3 linked regions of the Homo sapiens genome follow. The protein of the gene in region 1 interacts with the protein of each later gene in a pairwise test. Each region holds a gene or a part of one and is shown in the gene's direction. Other genes may lie near its edges. The genes, in order: DBH, LPIN1 and OTUD7B.

Region 1 (3,747 bases):
CAGTGCAGGGTGGGCACCTGCTATCAATCACCATCTTAGATGTGGCACCCTGGTTTCTCTCTCCTTTCCTGTTCATGTCCCACCCTGTTCCCAACTCTCCCCTTTCTGAGGCTCCGCAACTCTCCTGCCTGCATGAATGTGGGCAGCATTGGTCTGAGGCATTGTTCCCAGTCTTGAGGAGGCCTTGGGAGCCTCAGGCATCTTCTTAAGAAGCTCAGTGTCCCGCCCGCCAGGCCCGGGAATGCCCATGGCTAACAGAACCTGTGACCTGCTGGCAAGTGACAGCCCTGGTTCCTGGCTGCAGAGGAGGAACCAACTCCACTGTCGGGGCTCATCTCCACTGTCTCCAGGCAGAAATGGAGATAGAAGGTGTGAGTGAAGCCACAGCCCCAGGCAGAACCCTCAGATCCACAGGGACTGAGGCCCAGCATCCCCAGATCAGCTGGCAATGAATGCGGAGCTCTGCCGGGGAATGCCCTCTTCCCCTGTGGATTGGCCCGGCTTGGCTCCTTCATGCCTGGAGCCCAGTGCTTGTCTCTGCAGGACGCCTGGAGTGACCAGAAGGGGCAGATCCACCTGGATCCCCAGCAGGACTACCAGCTGCTGCAGGTGCAGAGGACCCCAGAAGGCCTGACCCTGCTTTTCAAGAGGCCCTTTGGCACCTGCGACCCCAAGGATTACCTCATTGAAGTAAGGGGTGGCCGCGAGTACCCAGGAGGGCGTGGGCTGCGTGTATCATGCTGCCATCCTGTGCCAATGTCATAGTACCTTTCCTGTCCCTGATAAGTCTGGGGCCTGGGCCTGGCCAGCTATGACAGAGAGAAAGCCAAGGAGGATGGCCAGAGGCAGTGGTGGGGCCAAAGCACTTAGGATGGTCCAGCTCTGCTATTGCCCCTGAGCCCTCAAAGACGCAGCTCTTTGCCAACACGTAGCTGACATGGTTTCTAGATGCGGGGCTTGTGCTGAAGCCTCTCCCATTGGACTAGACCTTGCTTCTGGATGTCTCTCTCCTCCTGGTCCTGTTAACCATCAGGTGGGATTCTGGAGCCCAGGCGACCTGGCTTTCCATCCCGGCCCTGTTGCCAGCTCGCTGTGAGGCTCGGGACAACTGCCCCCCTCCTCTGGACCTCACTTTGCCCATCTGTAAAATGGAGATGGGAACTAGATGATCTGTATGGCCTGACCAACTCTGGGAGTTCATGGGAGCCATAAAACATTGTAAAAGCCATAGGCTTCTTATGCTGCTCTAAGAGCCCCCCAACCTCTTAGGGAAAGCAACCCACCTTGCCCTTGAAGACAAAACTCTTTTAACTCTAGCACACCTGACAGCTTTTGTCTTGTGTAAGTAATCCTTTGGTGTGGCAGTGGCCTGGGCTGGCCGTTAGTGCCAGGTCTTAATCATGGGTGTAGCTGAGTGACCACACGGGAGGCCAGTGCCATCGAAAGATTGATTGCATTTCCGGAGAGAAGGGGCACCTGTGCCGTGCAGGGCCACCTGCAGAGCCCTGGGTTTGGTCAGGAGGCAGATGCAGGAGCTAGGGGAGAGCCCAGGCCTGAGGCTTTCTTGGGGTTTCCATGGGAAAGGCCAGGCAGGGCAGGGAAGTTGCTTCATTTGGACAATTCTGGTGGGCTCTGGGTGGCCGGGGTGGTCTCTAGTTGCCTGGTTCCTGGCCCTAGGGTGATTTAGGGCTGAGGCAATATTGGCCTGGTGTGTGACAGTCAGGTGGAGGAGGTGGCTAAGGATATGGGCTTGGGACGGGTTGGAGGGTTGGGAATATGATTCTCACACAAGCGTGAATGTTGGAGGGAAGGGCAGGTGTAAACAACTCTGGCCATCTGTTTGAGCCTGCAATCCATTAATAGATGCCAAATAGACAAATACGGAATCTAAGAAAACAGAACAGCTGGCTGTTTGCCAGATGAGGAAACTAAGGCCCGGAGACGGGGAGTGGATGTACCCAGGGGTTCGGGGTGTGCTGGGGCAGACCTGGTGCCAGAAGAGGTGTTCTTCCAGGAGGTTGTTGAGCCCTTACCCTGCTTCCCAGTGGACGAGGCAAGGGTGAGCAGAGAACCCTCTGGAAGCACCTCACAGGGGGAGGCCAATGCCTGTGTGTGCTCAGCCCAGTGGCCCCAGGCCAGGTATAGGGGCCTTTGCCTGGAGTTCTGGGCGTCCCCTGCACAGGGCGGCCCATCGGCTTTCCGCAAACTCAAAGAGCAAATTAGCCACCCACACGGGTCTGCACTGTGGAGTGCCCAGAAAGCTATGAAAGGCACTTTCCACACCCGATCCCCGTTTCCATTCATGACAGCATGTGAGGAAGCCAGCCCCACAGCTTGCCTCCTGAGTCTGCCTGTGGCCTCCAGCACCGCGTAGATCCATGGAGCTTTCTGTGGCTGCTTGGTCCCCTCCTGCCAAGCTGGTGGTGACTACATAATATAGCGTGGCTCCGCAGCTCAGCGTGACCATCAGCAAGCCCCAGGGTGTTTCCTTCCCTTCATAGAGGGCACTGAATCCTCAGGCTGGGCTGCTGAACTGACCAATGATCCCCCACACCCAGTCCCCAGTGACCTTGGGGTTGGTGGAGGGAACAAATGTTCCGGCCACACTGGCTCACGGCGGGCCCAGTAGTCACTGGTTGAATGGATGTTAAGTGAATGTAGGTGGAATGTGTTTAGAAGAGAAAAGTATTTGATGGCCGGTGCAAATAGGGGATCCTGGGGGTCGTCAGCCCGGGATTTGGCCCCAGCCAGGGCCATGCAAGCCTCAAGGGTCCCTTATTCACAGAGATGAGAGTGAGGTGTGTCACCTGGTAGGTGTGGGTGGGCAGGGATGTGGCATCCTCTCAGGAGCCCAACTCTGGGGGCTCTGAGAGGGCGACCAGCTGAACCCTGTCTCGGCTGCAGGACGGCACTGTCCACTTGGTCTACGGGATCCTGGAGGAGCCGTTCCGGTCACTGGAGGCCATCAACGGCTCGGGCCTGCAGATGGGGCTGCAGAGGGTGCAGCTCCTGAAGCCCAATATCCCCGAACCGGAGTTGCCCTCAGACGCGTGCACCATGGAGGTCCAAGCTCCCAATATCCAGATCCCCAGCCAGGAGACCACGTACTGGTGCTACATTAAGGAGCTTCCAAAGGGCTTCTCTCGGCACCACATTATCAAGGTACGTGCGGGTCCAGGGCCGAGGTCCTCGCCCAGCCCTGCCTTCCTCCCGGGCCTGGGTTGTCCCTGACCCTGGAGAGCTGTCCACAGTCCTGGTTGGACCAGGTGTCCTCTTATCACTGGAACCTCAGGCACCTGCCTGAGCAGGGGAGCAGCAAGTGGTCTTGGCTTCCCCATCACTCTGCTCACTCCCCTACCCTCAAAGGGCCTTGGAGCTCCCACTTCCCTGCCTGGACCAAAGTGACCAACATCTTGACTTCTGCATCTTTCCTTGGGACTGGAACTGCTGTCTGTCTGCCAGGCCACCTCCCCCTTCATGAAAAAGCAGCTCGAGTCAGAACTCACTTGCTCTCGAACACCCGTCCGGGGAAGACAGAATAGCAAAGGCGATAGCTGTCGAGTGTCCACTATGCCACTAGTCCCGGGGGAGGGGCGAGGTGATCCCTCCTTCATCATAAGAGCCCCTAGTTTCCAGCAGAGGAAGTGTGGCCCAGGGAGGTTGAGTGTCCAGGGTCACATAGCAAGAAGGGGCATGTCCTTGAAGGTGCACTCAGAGAGGTTATGTGAGTGTCCAGAGTCACACAGC
Region 2 (3,747 bases), on another chromosome or scaffold:
GGCTGTGGCTGCTTTCACACCACCACAGCAGCGAGTGGTTGCGACAGACGTCGTAAAACCCGTAAAGCCCGAGATATCTGCCACTGGGCTCTTTACAGAAAATGTTTGCCGACCCCTGTTCGGAGCAAGCTTTGTCTAAAGGACTTTATTTCATTTAGTGACAGTGAGATAATTTATTGCTGCAAAGAACTTATAGCCAAATATGTTCTATTTTGTCTGGTGAAACAGAATGGCAAGAGCTTTTTAGATACTTTGAGGTTTGGGAACAGCACCGTTGAGGGTGAGAAGTTGGTTTTGATGGACTTATTCCATGATGATGCTGGAGAAAGAGTGGATTGCGGTCACACTTGTAGGTACTGAGGCCCCTCGCTGGAGGCCACAGCCTGCGCTTTTCCCATTGCAGTGATACCGAACACGTGACTGTAGACGCTTCAGTGCCACCAAAGCGTTGTCTCTTTGGAGAAGTCCAGTTGTGGAACTGGAAGAGCAAGGAGGTTGAAAGGCCAGGAGCCTTTCCCACATGGACGTGGGGGGGCCCACGTGCCTTCTTATAGGACTGCTCCCTAAAGGGCAGAAATGTGTGTCTGTTGGGAGCAGGGTGTCCCATTGCAGAAGCTCTCCTAATGTGATGTCAGGAGCCTCCTCTCCCCAGGCAGGCGAAAGAGAGCGTGCAGGCTGCCCCGTGGCAGCACGTCATTAGAAGGGCTGGGAGTCATGGGCACCAAGGGAGCAGGGACCACCCTCTGCCCCTTGGTGTGAGATGAGAGAGATGGCACTTGGTCTGGCTGCTCTATGCAGCTTGATCAAAGAGATTCAGGATCAGTTTAGCCCACAAGGTCCCTGTTTGTTGGATACAAGTTATGTATCATCATGAACTCACCTTGTATTGACAGGAAAGTTATATTCAATTGGAGTTGAACTCTAGGTAAATGAGACCAGAAGCATCAGTTTCCGAAGAATAGATAAGGTCTGGGAAAGAAGACGGCAAGGGAAACTGAAAGCTTTATTTCCTGCTTTGTCTGAAAAACCCTGCCGCCTTCCTCTAGAGGAAATGATGTGGGAAAATAAGCAATAATTAACCATGTTATTATGCGGCAATAAATAATTACAAGAATTGCTGCTGTAAATAATATTTCTCTAAGTTGTTTAGAATATGGTGAGGATCTTGTGGATAAGTTAATGACTTTTGGATGGTTACTTTGGCTGGGCAGAAGTAAGACCTTGTTTGGGTCTTCAGAGTAAAAATTCAGGAAACATGGAGGTGGTTACTGAGCGAGCCTTAACCAGTTGGTGAGTCCCTTGTGAAGTATTCCTGGAAGACATAAGATCTTAGAAAATTTCAACTTGTAGGCTCCTGCCCAACGTTATCGAGTTTATTTGTGGCATCCAGCATCTTTGGTAAAATTGGCACATCATATAATTTCCCTGTTTCCCAGGCCAGTGCAGATGATAAATATTTAAAATATGGACTCTAATGAGTGCCTGCCCGAGCCAACCAAGACCCTTTTGCAGCCCTCTGACAGCAGAGGAACTTGATTTGGAAACAGATTGCAGGAGATGCGAGTGCAGAGTGGGGTGGGGAAGGGTGGTCTTTTTGAGGTAAGAACAGACTATTTTTCCCTTTCTCTTTCCATCTCTTTCTTTTGTATTCTGGGCCACTTCTTTTTCTCCTCTCCCCCGCGGTGCACCAGGCGGCAGGGTGGGGCGGGCGACCCACGTGGAGCGCCTTCCATGGGAGGCGCTTCCCTGCCCCCTGGTGGCCGGAGGAGGGATTTGTCATGAGGCTCCGCTCAGAGCGAACGACAGCTGGGGGTGCATTTTCTGGGCTATTTGAGCCATGGAGCTGGGCCCAAAACATTTACAAAAGTTTCTTTTCCCACCTTAATTTTCGCTTTGTGTTTTCCTTAAGTCCTTCCGGTTCCCGACCTTCAACACCTAAAAGTGATTCAGAATTGGTCAGCAAGTCCACGGAAAGGACAGGGCAGAAGAACCCAGAAATGCTTTGGCTGTGGGGAGAGCTGCCGCAGGCTGCTAAGGTGAGAGTCTCTTCAATTCTGCCACGGACCGAAGATTTCTAACTCAGCTTAAATTACATGGAATTAGTATCATAGCATAGCCAAGAAACACAGCTACCAGGAGCCAGAGGTAAACCAAAATATATTAAGGGTTAGCCTTGAATGTTGGAATTACTTTCTTCCACGTTACCAACATTATAGAGAGGTCTCATTGCTTTTGTAGATTTTAAACCTATGGGATTCCTCTTAGGATTTACTTTTTTTTTTTTTTCTTGAGACAGAGTCTCACTCTGTCACCCGGGCTGGAGGGCAATGGCTCTATCTTGGCTCACTGCAACCTCTGCCTCCCAGGTTCAAGCGATTCTCCTGCTTCAGCCTCCCGAGTAGCTGGGATTACAGGCGCATGCCACCACGCCCCACTAATTTTTGTATTTTTAGTAGAGACGGGGTTTCACCGTGTTGGCCAGGCTGGTCTTGAACTGCTGACCTCAAGTGACCCGCCTGCCTCTGCCTCCCAAAGTGCTGGGATTATAAGCGTGAGCTGCCGTGCCCAGCCAGGATCTACATTTTCTATCACAGCTAAATGCAAATTAAATTAAAGAAATACAACTTACACACAATCTTGCTGTCTTGAAACTGTAAACAAAAATAGCTTCCAGCTCTTGAGTCTGCTAGGTCATTGATGAGTGGAGCAAAGCCACAGGGAGAGAGTTGTGGACTCTTGGCCCATTGAAAAAGAAGCTGAGTTGTAAGAGCTGGAATCCACATGTTCTTGTGTCCCTCACACAGAGAGACATCTGGGAGAGCCCTGGGAGAGGGAAAGGCTAATAGAACAGAAATGAAAGATTTCAGCCTAATAGATAAACAAAGTCAGAAAACCTTAAGGTTTTGATTCATCAAGTAGTAAGTATTTCTGGGCCCTCATTGTTGGTGGGACCCTGAATTTGACCCTATGGAGATCTCCAAAATAAATAGAGAAGCAGCTGAGGGTAGCGGAGAGAATGAGGGCCTGGGAGGCAGCAGGTTATTCTGGGTTTGAGTCCTCACTGCACCGCTTGCTAAAAAGGTGACCTTGGGCAAATGAGTAGACTTCCCTGAACCTCAGTGTCTTCATCTGTAAAACTGTGAGAAAATGACAGAATTGTTGTGAGGTTAGAAGGGCTAATGTAGGTATGTGAAGTATCTGGCACCTGTAGGCCCTCTGAATATTTGCATTCTTTCTCCTTGGCTGTGGTACATGCACGCTGAGCCCCAGTTTCCCTATCTTGGATATGCAGTGGGTTTACATGTAGGTACATAACTGGTTCAGCAAATATGTTTCTAAAAACATGAAATGAACACAATCTTTTCTTTCAAGAAATTTTATTTGGTATGCTAATGTATTATAAGCATCTTGAATTATGTTATTATATCACAAGCTTTAAAAAATATTGTAAGGTCCTTAGAAGATGCTATAGCCTCTTGCATCCCCAATAAATGTTTGTAATATGAATGAATGAGTGAGTGAGTGAGTGAATGACTATTGAAAACATCCCTTATAAAGAGTCAAGATGGGCAGCTTTTTGGAGAGTAGTCTGTTGAGGCCAAAGTTGTGGATCCATTTCCTCTCTAGGTTATATTTAGATTTCATAGAAAATGCTGATTTACCTGTCCACAGCTATGGTGCTGACCCAGCCAACTCTCTTTGCAAGTTTATGTCGTTAGTTGCTGGAGAAACAGCATGGAAGTGCAA
Region 3 (3,747 bases), on another chromosome or scaffold:
GGGGCCTGATGCACAGCAAGGGTTCAAAGCCTGGAGGGGTGGGGACAGGGTTGGGAGGAAGCAGCGGCACTGAGACACTGGAGAAGAAGAAGAAAAACTCACTGAAGAGCTGGAAGGGTGGCAAGGAGGAGGCAGCTGGGGATGGGCCTGTGTCTGAGAAGCCCCCAGCTGAGTCTGTTGGTAACGGAGGGAGCAAGTATAGCCAGGAGGTGATGCAGAGCCTGAGCATTCTGAGGACTGCCATGCAAGGGGAGGGGAAGTTTATTTTTGTTGGAACCCTGAAGATGGGTCACCGTCACCAGTATCAGGAGGAAATGATCCAGCGCTACCTTTCTGATGCTGAGGAGAGATTCCTGGCAGAACAGAAGCAGAAGGAGGCAGAGAGGAAGATCATGAATGGAGGAATAGGGGGTGGCCCTCCTCCAGCCAAAAAGCCAGAGCCAGATGCTAGGGAAGAGCAGCCGACCGGTCCCCCAGCAGAGTCCAGGGCAATGGCATTTTCCACTGGCTACCCTGGGGACTTTACTATCCCTCGGCCGTCTGGGGGCGGAGTCCACTGCCAGGAACCCCGGAGGCAGTTGGCAGGGGGTCCATGTGTCGGGGGCCTACCACCATATGCCACCTTCCCCAGACAGTGCCCTCCTGGGCGACCCTACCCCCACCAGGACAGCATCCCTTCTCTGGAGCCAGGCAGCCACTCTAAGGATGGACTTCACAGGGGTGCCTTGTTACCACCCCCCTACCGAGTGGCTGATTCCTATAGCAATGGCTACAGAGAGCCCCCTGAGCCAGATGGATGGGCTGGAGGTCTCCGGGGCCTTCCCCCAACTCAGACCAAATGCAAACAACCGAACTGCAGCTTCTATGGACACCCTGAGACAAACAACTTCTGTTCCTGTTGTTACAGGGAAGAACTGAGGAGGAGGGAGCGGGAACCGGATGGGGAGCTCCTGGTGCACAGGTTCTGAACGGGTGGAACACTGAAGGGCAAGGAGGCTAAACAAAGTTAAGCTCAACTAATTGGCTCATCAAGAACACAGTCCCCATGTTGAGGGGGAAAATGCAGTAATGTTTGTGGGAGCCTGGCTGGAAACTTTTAAGTGTGTGCACACAGGAGTGCTGCCAGGCTGGCAAGAGCAGGTCGGGGCTGGATGGCACCTCAGGGGCTGTACTATTCCTCTGCAGAGCTTGACTTGATGAGGTTTGAGGTACAAGGGGAAAAGATGGCGATTCTGTCTTATAACCTCCTGGGTCCCATCCAGGGACCTAAGAGAAAGTAGCAGGGGAAGGTTTGGTGTGTGGGGGTGGGAGGTGGGCAGAAGTCTTGGGGAGGAATGGGCAAAGGAGGTTCTCAGTCAATAAAACCAAAGTTCTTTAGGTTGGGAAAAAGCACATGGTGGAGTGAGAAGTGTGGAGGGGAAGTGGGAAATTGGACACATTTGCTATTGATTTGAATTAAGCTAGAAATTAAGGTTGGATAAATTCTTCCCCTTGAAGGATCTGGAAAGACAAGGCAGTAATGTGTCCTCATGGGTGCCTGTTAGGAGGTGGGGGTAGTTTAAATCCGTTTGTTTAGATGGGAAAGGGAGGAACTTAAGAGGGAAATCCTTTTCCTCTTAAGGTTTATTTCCTTCCAAGCAGTCATATGTCATCTGTTACAGTTTGAGAAGAGATTGCTGATTACCCCCTGTCTTTTCCTCATCTAAGTCTTTAATTGTATTTGTTTAAAGGGAAGAGTGTGGTGAGAACAGCCGTCATGTGTGTTGCATTTTCTCCAGGTGAATTGGGGCAGAGCTGATCTATTTTTTAACCACAGCAATAACCATACGTTGGGGTTTGAGTGCACCTTGGGAGGGGTGGGAGGACAGACATTTTAGCCAGAGGCTGTTTCAAACAAAACCAAAAACCTAAGTAGAGCATTACAGGCCTCTGTGGCTGCTGCGTTTCTGTAGAAAGCAACTTATTTTATTGACTTTTTTTTTTAAGGAAAAGAAATAAAAAGACCCCAGCAAGCAAAAACATTTAAAAAATGATTTTTTTTCCTCCTACTTAAGTGGTTCTTTCTCCCTTTGCTCTACTTTTGGAGAATGAACTTAACATCCCGGCTTCTTTTGTTAAGCCATAGCTGACCTTAATCTGTGGTTAGTTTATTAAAATAATTAAAAATACTTTCTAAGAAGAGATATTTTTGATATTAGGACTGATGTTGAAACATATAGGGGCAATTTATAAAAAGGTAGTTAGAGAAATATATTTTAGTGAACTATAACCACAGAGCACAGATGACTCCCAATGAGCTGATCTGTCTTTAGGTTTCTCCCTTTCCCTGACCCTTCCCTGTTCTCTAGGGGCTGGGAGTGGGGATGCGGACACAGTAGGGGGAGCTCCTTCGCATTTTGCACAAAGCACAAGTCTGAACAGCCTATGCTCTGGCCAGAGCCATTTCTAAGAGCTTTAAACCGGAAGACCTATCCTGGGCCAATTTTCCTTTTTCTTTATATTTTTTTCCGGGAAAAAAAGTCAACTATGCAATTGTATACACTCCCGGGTGCATGTGAAGAAGGGGAATAAGTGTACTTATGTGTCCAGAGTATTAACTGGGGCTGTTTTTCTGTGTTTGGATTTCTCTTTTGAGGTATGTACTCATAACCCATCCCTTGGAACGTAATCCCCACATTTGATCTAAAGCACTTGAGCGTGCATGCATGTGCGTGCGTGCATATGTGTGTGTGTTTTCCTCCTCGGTAGCCAGTCAAGATTGTCCTTGTTGGAAATGCTCACGGTTTATAAAGGTTATTTTCTCCTCAACAAACTCAGAAGTCACCTATTTTCCAAATCTGATTTAATAATTTCCTATGGCTATTAATTCTTAGGGTTTTCTTTGAAAATAGATTTGTGTTAAGGAAGCAGTGAGATTCCAAAGGAAGGGATGTGTATATGTCTAGGCAGGTCTGGAACCTGGTATGAGATGAGCACTCCCCTAAGTTGCAAAATTTAAGGGTTACTATAAAACTCATTAATCAAGATACTATAAAAAATGCAGTATTTAAAAAAATTAATGCAAAAAATTTATGTTGGATAAAATAGCGAAATCTTACAGGATCTGACAGGACTGAGATTAGGAGGAGGGAAGTGAGGCTGAATTGAATAAGTATGGGGATGAATCCTTCTTATTTAAATTTTTGATACATTGTCCATCATAGACTTTTTACATTAATTGTGATTTTTTAAAAATGTTGCATTAAAATAGTATTTATCTTGGTTACTGGGTTTTTTGGCACTCCTTAAATTTTGTGCCCAAGGTGAGTGCTTTGCTCACCTCACCCTAGTTACGTCCCTGTTTCTGTGATTTGAACACTAGCGAGAACACCACTGTGTGCGCCTCCACCCCCATCACACACCAAACAACAGGTGGCTCAGACACCCTGAATTTGCACAGCTCACCTAGCTTTCCTAATTTAGGCCTTCATATCATAGAATGGTGGCCTGGACCAATAGGAATGAAAACAGACCAGGGGTTTTCCCAGAGAATAAAGCCGGAAAAGTTTTGATTCTCCACTGGACTGCTGTGTTTGGATTTGATCTGTTGTTAGATTCTAGTTAACACTTTTGTTTTTAAAAACTAAGGACAAATGAACAAAAAACCTTGTATCATGTTTGTTTTTATTTATAAGTTAGCCAATCCCAATTCCGTTTGCTTTATTTTCAAATAAAAAAAGATGGAAATTTTGAGGGGTGGTCTAGGGG

What was found.
Region 2: the proteins of DBH (region 1) and LPIN1 interact in binary tests that used the Homo sapiens proteins (3 or more experiments, as listed by UniProt).
Region 3: the proteins of DBH (region 1) and OTUD7B interact in binary tests that used the Homo sapiens proteins (3 or more experiments, as listed by UniProt).

Annotation. Positions count from the first base shown.
Region 1 is NC_000009.12:133,639,303-133,643,049, forward strand, and holds part of DBH (dopamine beta-hydroxylase precursor), read left to right. Parts: intron 1-543; coding exon 544-690; intron 691-2,904; coding exon 2,905-3,162; intron 3,163-3,747. UniProt on the Homo sapiens protein: Catalyzes the hydroxylation of dopamine to noradrenaline (also known as norepinephrine), and is thus vital for regulation of these neurotransmitters.
Region 2 is NC_000002.12:11,777,610-11,781,356, forward strand, and holds part of LPIN1 (phosphatidate phosphatase LPIN1), read left to right. Parts: intron 1-1,909; coding exon 1,910-2,036; intron 2,037-3,747. UniProt on the Homo sapiens protein: Acts as a magnesium-dependent phosphatidate phosphatase enzyme which catalyzes the conversion of phosphatidic acid to diacylglycerol during triglyceride, phosphatidylcholine and phosphatidylethanolamine biosynthesis and therefore controls the metabolism of fatty acids at different levels.
Region 3 is NC_000001.11:149,941,078-149,944,824, reverse strand, and holds part of OTUD7B (OTU domain-containing protein 7B), read left to right. Parts: coding exon 1-968; 3' UTR 969-3,747. UniProt on the Homo sapiens protein: Negative regulator of the non-canonical NF-kappa-B pathway that acts by mediating deubiquitination of TRAF3, an inhibitor of the NF-kappa-B pathway, thereby acting as a negative regulator of B-cell responses.